3 separate regions of the Homo sapiens genome follow, and all the other regions are linked to region 2. Evidence: fine-mapped expression QTL. A gene starts in region 2. Each other region holds a variant in brackets. All regions are shown on one strand. Distances are between the middles of the regions. Region 1 overlaps PLEKHA3 (pleckstrin homology domain containing A3). Region 2 holds the start of FKBP7 (FKBP prolyl isomerase 7). Region 3 overlaps PRKRA (protein activator of interferon induced protein kinase EIF2AK2).

Evidence for each region. PIP is the estimated chance that this variant, and not a neighbour inherited with it, causes the effect. A credible set is the group of variants that fine-mapping cannot tell apart.
Region 1: its variant is the best candidate, but not a certain one, in a credible set for the expression of FKBP7 in tibial artery (GTEx, PIP 0.84).
Region 3: its variant is the best candidate, but not a certain one, in a credible set for the expression of FKBP7 in left ventricle (GTEx, PIP 0.77).

What each region holds. Positions count from the first base shown.
Region 1 is chr2:178,497,277-178,500,046 of GRCh38, forward strand. PLEKHA3 (pleckstrin homology domain containing A3) reads left to right here. Exons shown (of 8, transcript NM_019091.4): 6 at 1,935-1,978. Among named protein-coding and RNA genes, the nearest start is that of PLEKHA3, 18 kb to the left of the region's middle. The variant C/T (reference allele first, on the strand shown) is at 1,682.
Region 2 is chr2:178,477,418-178,480,187 of GRCh38, forward strand. FKBP7 (FKBP prolyl isomerase 7) reads right to left here and starts at 1,183. Exons shown (of 4, transcript NM_181342.3): 1 at 862-1,183. The coding sequence starts at 1,082.
Region 3 is chr2:178,445,536-178,448,305 of GRCh38, forward strand. It overlaps PRKRA (protein activator of interferon induced protein kinase EIF2AK2), which reads right to left. Exons shown (of 8, transcript NM_003690.5): 3 at 1,970-2,051. Among named protein-coding and RNA genes, the nearest start is that of PRKRA, 4.3 kb to the right of the region's middle. The variant G/A (reference allele first, on the strand shown) is at 1,267.

The sequences.
Region 1 (2,770 bases), 20 kb after region 2:
CTGGAGTGCAGTGGCGCAATCTCAGCTCACTGCAAGCTCCGCCTCCTGGGTTCATGCCATTCTCCTGCCTCAGCCTCCTGAGCAGATGGGACCACAGGCGCCTGCCACCATGCCCAGCTAATTTTTTGTATTTTTAGTAGAGACGGGGTTTCACCATGTTAGCCAGGATGGTCTCGATCTCCTGACCTCGTGATCTGCCCGCCTTAGTCTTCCAAAGTGTTGGGATTACAGGCGTGAGACACTGCGCCTGGCCCATTTTATGTATTTTTTAATACCATCTTACAGGACTGTGGTGTGGTGTTGAGTAAAACATAGTTTGACAATGTTGCTTTTTAGGACAATTGTAGATATGCTATAAACTGTTAATTAACAAGTATGTGTGAACAAAGAAACCAGTGTTTTGAGATGGATGTGTAGTGCTGTGTTCCTGAGGTTGATAGACAAAGGGTACACTTTTTTTTTTTAAGCTGTACTTTTTAGAGTCAAATGCAGTAAAACACCTCAGAGTTGCCTTGCTTCTGCATTGAACTTCTCAGGAAATCCCTTATGTTACAAATGCTCTGTAGTCCAGAGAAGTCAATGCGTATTTTACATATAAGAAACTAAAATAATTATTAGTTCTAGAGACAAATAGCATGGAAAGTAAGGTCAGACAATCTTCATGTTTTTTTTTTAAATAACATTGTTTATTTATTTATATGAAAAACTTACATTTATTTATATGAAAAATAAAGCTGAAAATTTGAGTATTCCAAAACAATTTAATCTGATCTTTGTAAGTGCTTTAATCTGATCTTTATAAGCACTTTATATAGTTAATCTCAATGAATTCATCTTAGAGTAAACTTGCATTTAACTTTATTTCAAGTTGTCATAAAAGTTCAGACAACCATCACTGGACCTACAGATTGAGTGATTATTATAGTGGGGATGTCCTTGGGTTAGTAAGCCTAAAGGAAGTAATTTCTGTTAAAGGAGATGTTAGTGGCCATTTGCATCTTAATGTCAATCTTATCAGATGTTCCCAGACTACAAACTGGGTGGGTCATATCTCTTAGCATTTCAACTGGTATTTCTCAGAGCAACTAGTGGCTCATGTTCCAAATATAGAAGGCATTTGCATAACATCAATGTTAGACCTGGGCTTGTTAGACTCTTGGGCTCATGTATACAAAAGCAACCACCCTAAACCTTTAGTATAATCTTTGTTTTTCTGCTACCATGTTAAACTTTGAAATAATCAGTTTTACTTGGCTGCCTCCCTTTATATTTTGATGGAGTAGTTGGATCTTCCAAATTATGTTTAGTATTTATCATATTTTTTAAATGTTCTGCTTAATTAGGTATTCTTTATTTTTTTAAATATATGTTTTGGAAATCCACTGAGACTTAGGGTTCTTCTTCTGAGTTCTTTAAAGTCTTGAATTATTAATGCTGTTTTCCATGAAAACCACACTTTAGAACATTTGTATATCAGCTACCTAAATAATTAATGATAAAGAGAAGCTTTGCTGCCAGACTCTACTACTGTCCTTTAAAAAAGAGATATTTATTAGAATATTTTGTGGCTTGCTAGATACTCCTTTTTTATCACATTTATATCTTATTTATAGTTATATACCCTGTTTTTTATATTTGTATACACACACATATATATGTATTATGTATAAAATTTGGTTTT[C/T]ACTTTTGAAAAAAGAATCCAGCATGTTTTTGGTGTGTGTTGAAAAAGATTCCAATTAATGGTTATTAGGGAGAAAGCTTGATGTTGTACTAATTATGTTGCTTGAGTCTGTGAAAGATTAAATTTTTTTTTGCCAGTTATCTTTTTCTCTGAGTAAATTTATGTTTATTATGATAATAGTAAATTAGAGCTGCATGATTCTACTTGACATATGGATTATGCTAATTTTTTTTTTTTTTTCCAAAATTTCTAGATGAAGCGTTCTGTCAGCCACCCTGGTTCTTGCAGTTCAGAGAGGTAAAAGAACCTTTTCTTCTGACTAAGTTCTCTCAAATTATATCCATCTAGGGAAGTTCTTTGGGCCTTTAACAAGTGGTGTGGAATGTAAACTCTGTATGGGTTAGGTCTGGTTCAAAACCAGCATTTTATCTCTCAGTATTTATCTCCTAGTATTTAGTATAAGGGCCTGGCCTCAGTAGGTAGTCAGTAAAGAAAAAAATGAATGAATTAACCAGCAAGGTAAGCACGTTGCCAGCCATTTTACCTTTTTTAGATGTTTGAAATGCAGTCATATATTGAAGAATGACTTTTCCATCAATGATAGACTGCATATGTGACAGTGGCCTCATAAGATTATAATACCATATTTTTACTGTACTTTTTCCATGTTTAGGTATGTTTAGATACACAAATACCATTGTTACAGTCACCCACAACATTCAGTACAGTAACATGCAGTAGAAGTTTGTAGCCTAAGAACAATAGGCTATACCACATAGCCTACATGTGTAGTAGGCTATACTAGCTAGTTTTGTGTAAGCACGCTCTGTGATGTTTGCACAGTGACAGAATCACCTAGCGATGGATTTCTCAGAATGCATCCTTGTCATTAAGAGACGCATGACTGTATATCAAGTGATGGTTAGACAGAAGTACATTTTTGATGTGTTGAGACTCCACAGCTAGGGCTCATTTTACCTCAGCTGTTTATAGCATCATCTATTCATGCTGAGCTGTTGTTTCATTAAGAGAGAAAGATCTTGCTGAAGAGAGAAAACCACTTGATATTTTAAAGTACATATTCATATC
Region 2 (2,770 bases):
ATCTCATTTTTTAAAATTGTTATCTTTACAAAAACTATTCAACAGTTAACTTTTTAATGGGTCTCCAGCCCCTAACTAGGTGCATGGCTTGTACAAAGAACTCATTTAACTCCCTGGGTTTGTTGTAAAAAAATGATAGGGCAGTTTTAGCCTCAAAAAGTCATTTTAATAGTAATTTAAAATGGTATATTTTCTTATTAAATTCTAATGATATAATTTATTAAATTCTTATTAAATTATAAAATTGTATAAATTCTTATTAAATTTCTCTATTTTATTCTAAATGGATGGAACTGTTTTTCCCAGTCCTATCTTTACAGGGTAAAGAAAAGATTCTCCCTCTGAGTAATAAGCCATCAATTAAATCAGAGTAGGCACCAGGTGGAATGAGGGAGCAGGGCCCACCAGAAGTCACCAGGGAAGTAACTGTTTTTCTTGATAGAAAGTGGCCACAACCTATAAAAATCGTGCTTCTGAAGGCCAGAATTAAATCTCTTTATTCCATGTATTCCTCCGTAAAGACTCAATACTTCTGGCAAGGGAAAAATGTGAACATCCTTATAGGCAGAACCTTGATTTAATTCTGGAGGTCCCAAGGGTAATGGTGGTGGTTGATGTGTGTGTGGATGTATCGTATTTTTGATAATTTATTGCCACAACATTTTCAATACTTTAAATAAAAATATTCAGTTTATTAGAGAAACACTGCCATATAATGTGATTTTTTTTAATGAATAAAGGGCTCAACTTTTACCGTTAAAAAATAAAACCCCAACCAACCAACCAATGAGGCTTCCGCTTGGTGGAGGCAGGCAAGATTTTGTGCAACTGGACGCACGGGCAGCTCGCAGCATTTCCTACCTGCAGTAGAATTTCGAGCCGTCTTTAGCCAGGTAGCCGTCATAATGGGCATTTAGTAGGTCTCCCTTCTTGCTTGTCTTAGAGCAGTTTTCTGGACGATGCAAAACTTCTATTTTCACTTCTTCGGTGCTCTCCTCTTTCTTTTGTCTCTGAGCAGTAAAAAGGCCCCACAGATAAAAGAAAACAATGAATCTGAATAAGAAATGCATGGTTTTTGGCATCGGCTCCAGCAGAACACTGCTCTCCCTCCCGCGTGTCACTCGCGCCCCGTGGATGTCCCGCGGCCGAGTTCCGACGCGTGGCAGGCGTTGTCCTGCGTCACAAAGGGCCGGGGCGGGGCCATAGATGCGGCCCCGCCCTCTCATGGCCCCAACCCCTCCGCCTCCCGCAGCGGGCTCAGCGCGGTTAACGCTGTTTCTAGGCCCTCGGGCTGGCTGTCCTCAGTCTTTAAGATCGCAACGCACACTCGCTCCGCTTCTTCTCGCTAAACCCGCGTATTTTACAGCAGGTTTCCTCAGGGTTCGGTGACAACATTCGCATTTTCTAAAATGAAACTGGCATAAGACGAAATAAACAGCCTGGGATGTCGTAGAGTCAGGGAATATGGTTGTCATTTCTGGAAGCAAAAGGCTTCTAAGACCCCTAGGGAACGAGCAGATAGATACTGGGGGGAGGGAGAGGCATGCTGGAAAAGGAGCGTAAAAAATAGGCTGGCGGTGGCTTTCTGGGTGCTTCGGAGGTGTCCTTGAAGCGCATTCTCAGGTCGGAATCTTGCATTCAGAGGTTCCAGGCTGAGTCGCACAACCTGAAGGCCAGCCCGATGCAACGAAACTGCGGTACCGCAACTCCTCTGCCTGGCTGCAGGCGTTTCCGAGAGCCGACCTCCACAATTCAGCATCCTCCGCTGGCTTGCATTTCTTTTCCCCGCCACTCGGGGCCGCCCTTGATTCGAGGGCCTCTGGTAGTGCGGGGAATGTTCTTTTGACTTTTTTGTACCATCCCATGGGATACGTAATTGTCCACATCAGTCAAGAAAACTTGAGTATTGGGCATGTTGTCCCAATCTCACAGCTAATACGCAGCAGGGATTTGGTCAAATCTGTGTGACAACACCACTTCACCACCAATTTTAGTATGAAAACCTTTAAAATACACAGAAAGTTGAATTCTACAGTAAACTCTCCTACACCCACCATCTGGATCCTGTCATTGAACTATATTATATTTATTACATATCCATCCATCACTCTATCCATCCATCAATTCGCCTTGTTTCCAAGTGAATACCCAAAGACTACCCAAACCAGAAAACCAGCAAAGGCCTTCTGCATTCGCCTGGATTAAGTTCTGGGAGTAGAGGTGCTATTCTACCTCGGTGATGCGAAGAAAAGCCGCAGCACTGAGCCTGATTGATGTGCTTTGCTTAAAGTTTGCAAAATTCCATAAACCTGAAAATTACTGTCGATTATGCAAGATGACAATTGCGTCCAAGCAGGAGTTTCAAAAATCATAAAAGCTAGGGGGAAGTCCCCATTTCTAGACTAAAATTCCGAAGTCGAGTTCCATGTTTTATATTCTAAATAAAATTGTGGCTATCCAAGGTTATCGGCGTGATGACAGTTCCTTGGGGGCCCTCGCCATTCCTTGTCAGAGGACCCCGTCTGCTGCACATTGCCTTCCTAGGAGATAATTTCAGACCCCTTGAATATGAGGAAAATACGAAGCAAACAGAAATAGGAAGGCTTTTATGTATTTTTGAAGAAAAAACAGGATTTTATGTAAAATAAAAACAGGATTTCATGAAGAAACAGGATATTATGTATTTCTGAAGAAAACCCAGGAAAACCCGAGAGAACTAAGTGCCCGCGGGATGAGTGTGCGGGCAGCTCCTCCTTAGGTAGGCACCGGG
Region 3 (2,770 bases), 32 kb before region 2:
CTGTCAAGAAGCACAAATATAGTAAAGTTTGTTAGCTTTTTTTGCTGACAAAGTGCCAAGATGCAGAAAGGACACTCCATACCCCTCATTTCTACAAATGTACTTAATGGTTGGGTTCACCTTCAGGCTATACAGAAACAGCATGGCCATCACCAGTGGGGGAGAACCCAATACCTGCCATGTCATTTGGCATGTCTTTTTTTTGTTTGTTTGGAGACAGAGTCTTGCTCTGTCGCCCAGGCTGGAGTGCAATGGCGCGATCCCAGCTCACTGCAACCACTGCCTACTGGGTCCAAGGAATTCTCGTGTCTCAGCCTCCCAAGCAGCTGGGATTACAGGAGCGTGCCACCACACTCGGCTAATTTTTTGTATTTTTAGTAGAGACGAGGTTTCACCATGTTGGCCAGGCTGGTCTCGAACTCCTGACTCAAGTGATCTGCCCACCTTGGCCTCCCAAAGTGCTGGGATTACAGGTGTGAGCCACCATGCCTGGCCTTGTTTTTCTTTGAGGCAGGGTTTCACAGGCTGGAGTGCAGGGGCACAATCTTAGCTTACTGCAATCTCCGCCTCCCGGGTTCAAGCGATTTTTGTGCCTCAGCCACCCAAGTAGCTGGGATTACAGGCGCCTGCCACCATGCCTGGCTAATTTTTGTATTTTTAGTAGAGACAGGGTTTTGCCATGTTGGCCAGGCTGGTCTTGAACTCCTGGCCTCAAGTGATCCACCCACCTCAGCCTCCCAAAGTGCTGGGATTACAGGCGTGAGCCACCCCGCCCAGCCTGGCATAGATCAATTATAATGCATGACCCTAGAGAATCAAGCATCATCTTGTGAAATGCAAGGCTTGTCTTGGGCAGCTGCTTATCTAGAGGGTTGCCATGTCACTGGTTAGTTCTAAACTACCCAAACGGTTTAGAATGATTTACAAAAAGAGAGGAATACTACATGAGAACCTAACTACACCCCTAATCCAAAAGCCTTTCTATGACTAGGGAACAAAAAACCCATCCCAAATTCCCTGGGTCTCTACTGTCAACTATAAGCTGATTACACAGATCGTACTTCAGGCATATGTAAGTGTATGCACAAGAAGAACTTGAAAGCATGCCAAGCTCCAGAGTGCACCCAGTGGACACTACTTTAATATGTGAGATGCTCCAGGACCAATATTCTATCTAGAAACACCTAAAGTAGTAAAAAATCTATCCCAGCACTTTGGGAGGCCGAGGCTGGCGGATCACGAGGTCAGGAGATCGAGACCATCCCG[G/A]CTAAAACGGTGAAACCCCGTCTCTACTAAAAATACAAAAAATTAGCTGGGCGTAGTGGCGGGCGCCTGTAGTCCCAGCTACTTGGGAGGCTGAGGCAGGAGAATGGCGTGAACCCGGGAGGCGGAGCTTGCAGTGAGCCGAGATCCCGCCACTGCACTCCAGACTGGGCGACAGAGCGAGACTCCGTCTCAAAAAAAAAAAAAAAAAAAAAAAAATCTTACTTTAGAAAGATATGTCAAGAATTAATATCCCACTTAACATTCTCTTCTTTTGGTATACATTATATAATAAAAGAAAACCTCTGCCTGCTTCTTCAAAATTAGAATTCCCAAAAGAGTACTTTTAGTGGATCTTTCTCCATCTCACACTTTGTTTTCTTCAATGTAGAAATAATCAAAGTCTAAATACAAAATGTTAATATTAATATTTGCAAGAAGCACTGATTTTCTACTGTTGTATCCCATTAAAAAAAAAAAAACAGTAAAGCCTAGTTCATGAGCACCTTCATTTAATAGCTAATTGCTGGATTTGATTGGATAAAGTTTTCTTTAATGGATGATAAGTTTTCATAAGGAAATAGAATTTGAGAGGTAGGATGCTAACAACTGTTCACTTTGTTGCTTTTGTAAGCATGTTCAAATTTTTAATCTTACCTCAGCCATGATATTTTTGAGCTGCTGAATACAAAGAAATTTAGCTCACCAAATACTTGCATTGGCTTTCAAAATGTTTATGGCAGCCTCTGCAGCTCTATGTTTCGCCAGCTTCTTACTTGTACCTTCACCTGAATTAAGATTTAAAAAAAGAAGTCTTTATCTCCCACAAAAATGTGCAGCTTACAAAGATGTTTTCAATACACAAAACAAAGTCACTATAGATTTTACATACACATACTAGGTAATAAAAATATGTACGTTATATACTGTACATAAAAATATGTACATGTTATATACTACATGGTTATATACTGTAATAAAATATTCACCATGTGAAAAAATTTTAAAAAATAACTTTTTAAAGTTCTATATAATTCTATGCATACCTGCATAAAAATCCTTATTTCTACATTATATATGTTTATTATATAACATGGTAATAAAGTAGACCGTGTCACACCTCTGAAGAAATGCAGATTAGTATTTTACTCTTCCTTTATTCCTGGAGGGGAAATTCTTCTGCAGCAAGAAGTTTCTTTTAAAGGAACCATTTACAGCAGAATTGTTTGATAGCAAAATGTGCATAATTTTATTCTGACAGCCTGTCCTATAACGTATCAAACTGCTTTGCTAGGCTGAGCAGTCATGATTATGTGTTGGGTACAACAGGAAAGAGTTTTATGGAATAAGGTGACAGCTTGTTATGTATCTTCTGGACGGTCTGTATCTTCTGCATGGGTAGCTAAGTTGGGACTGGGGATAAGACTGATGTCTAATTTCAGTAAGCAATCACAATGGCAAATGATAAATTCCATCTTTTTCCTTTTAAGTTCAAACTCCCATACCC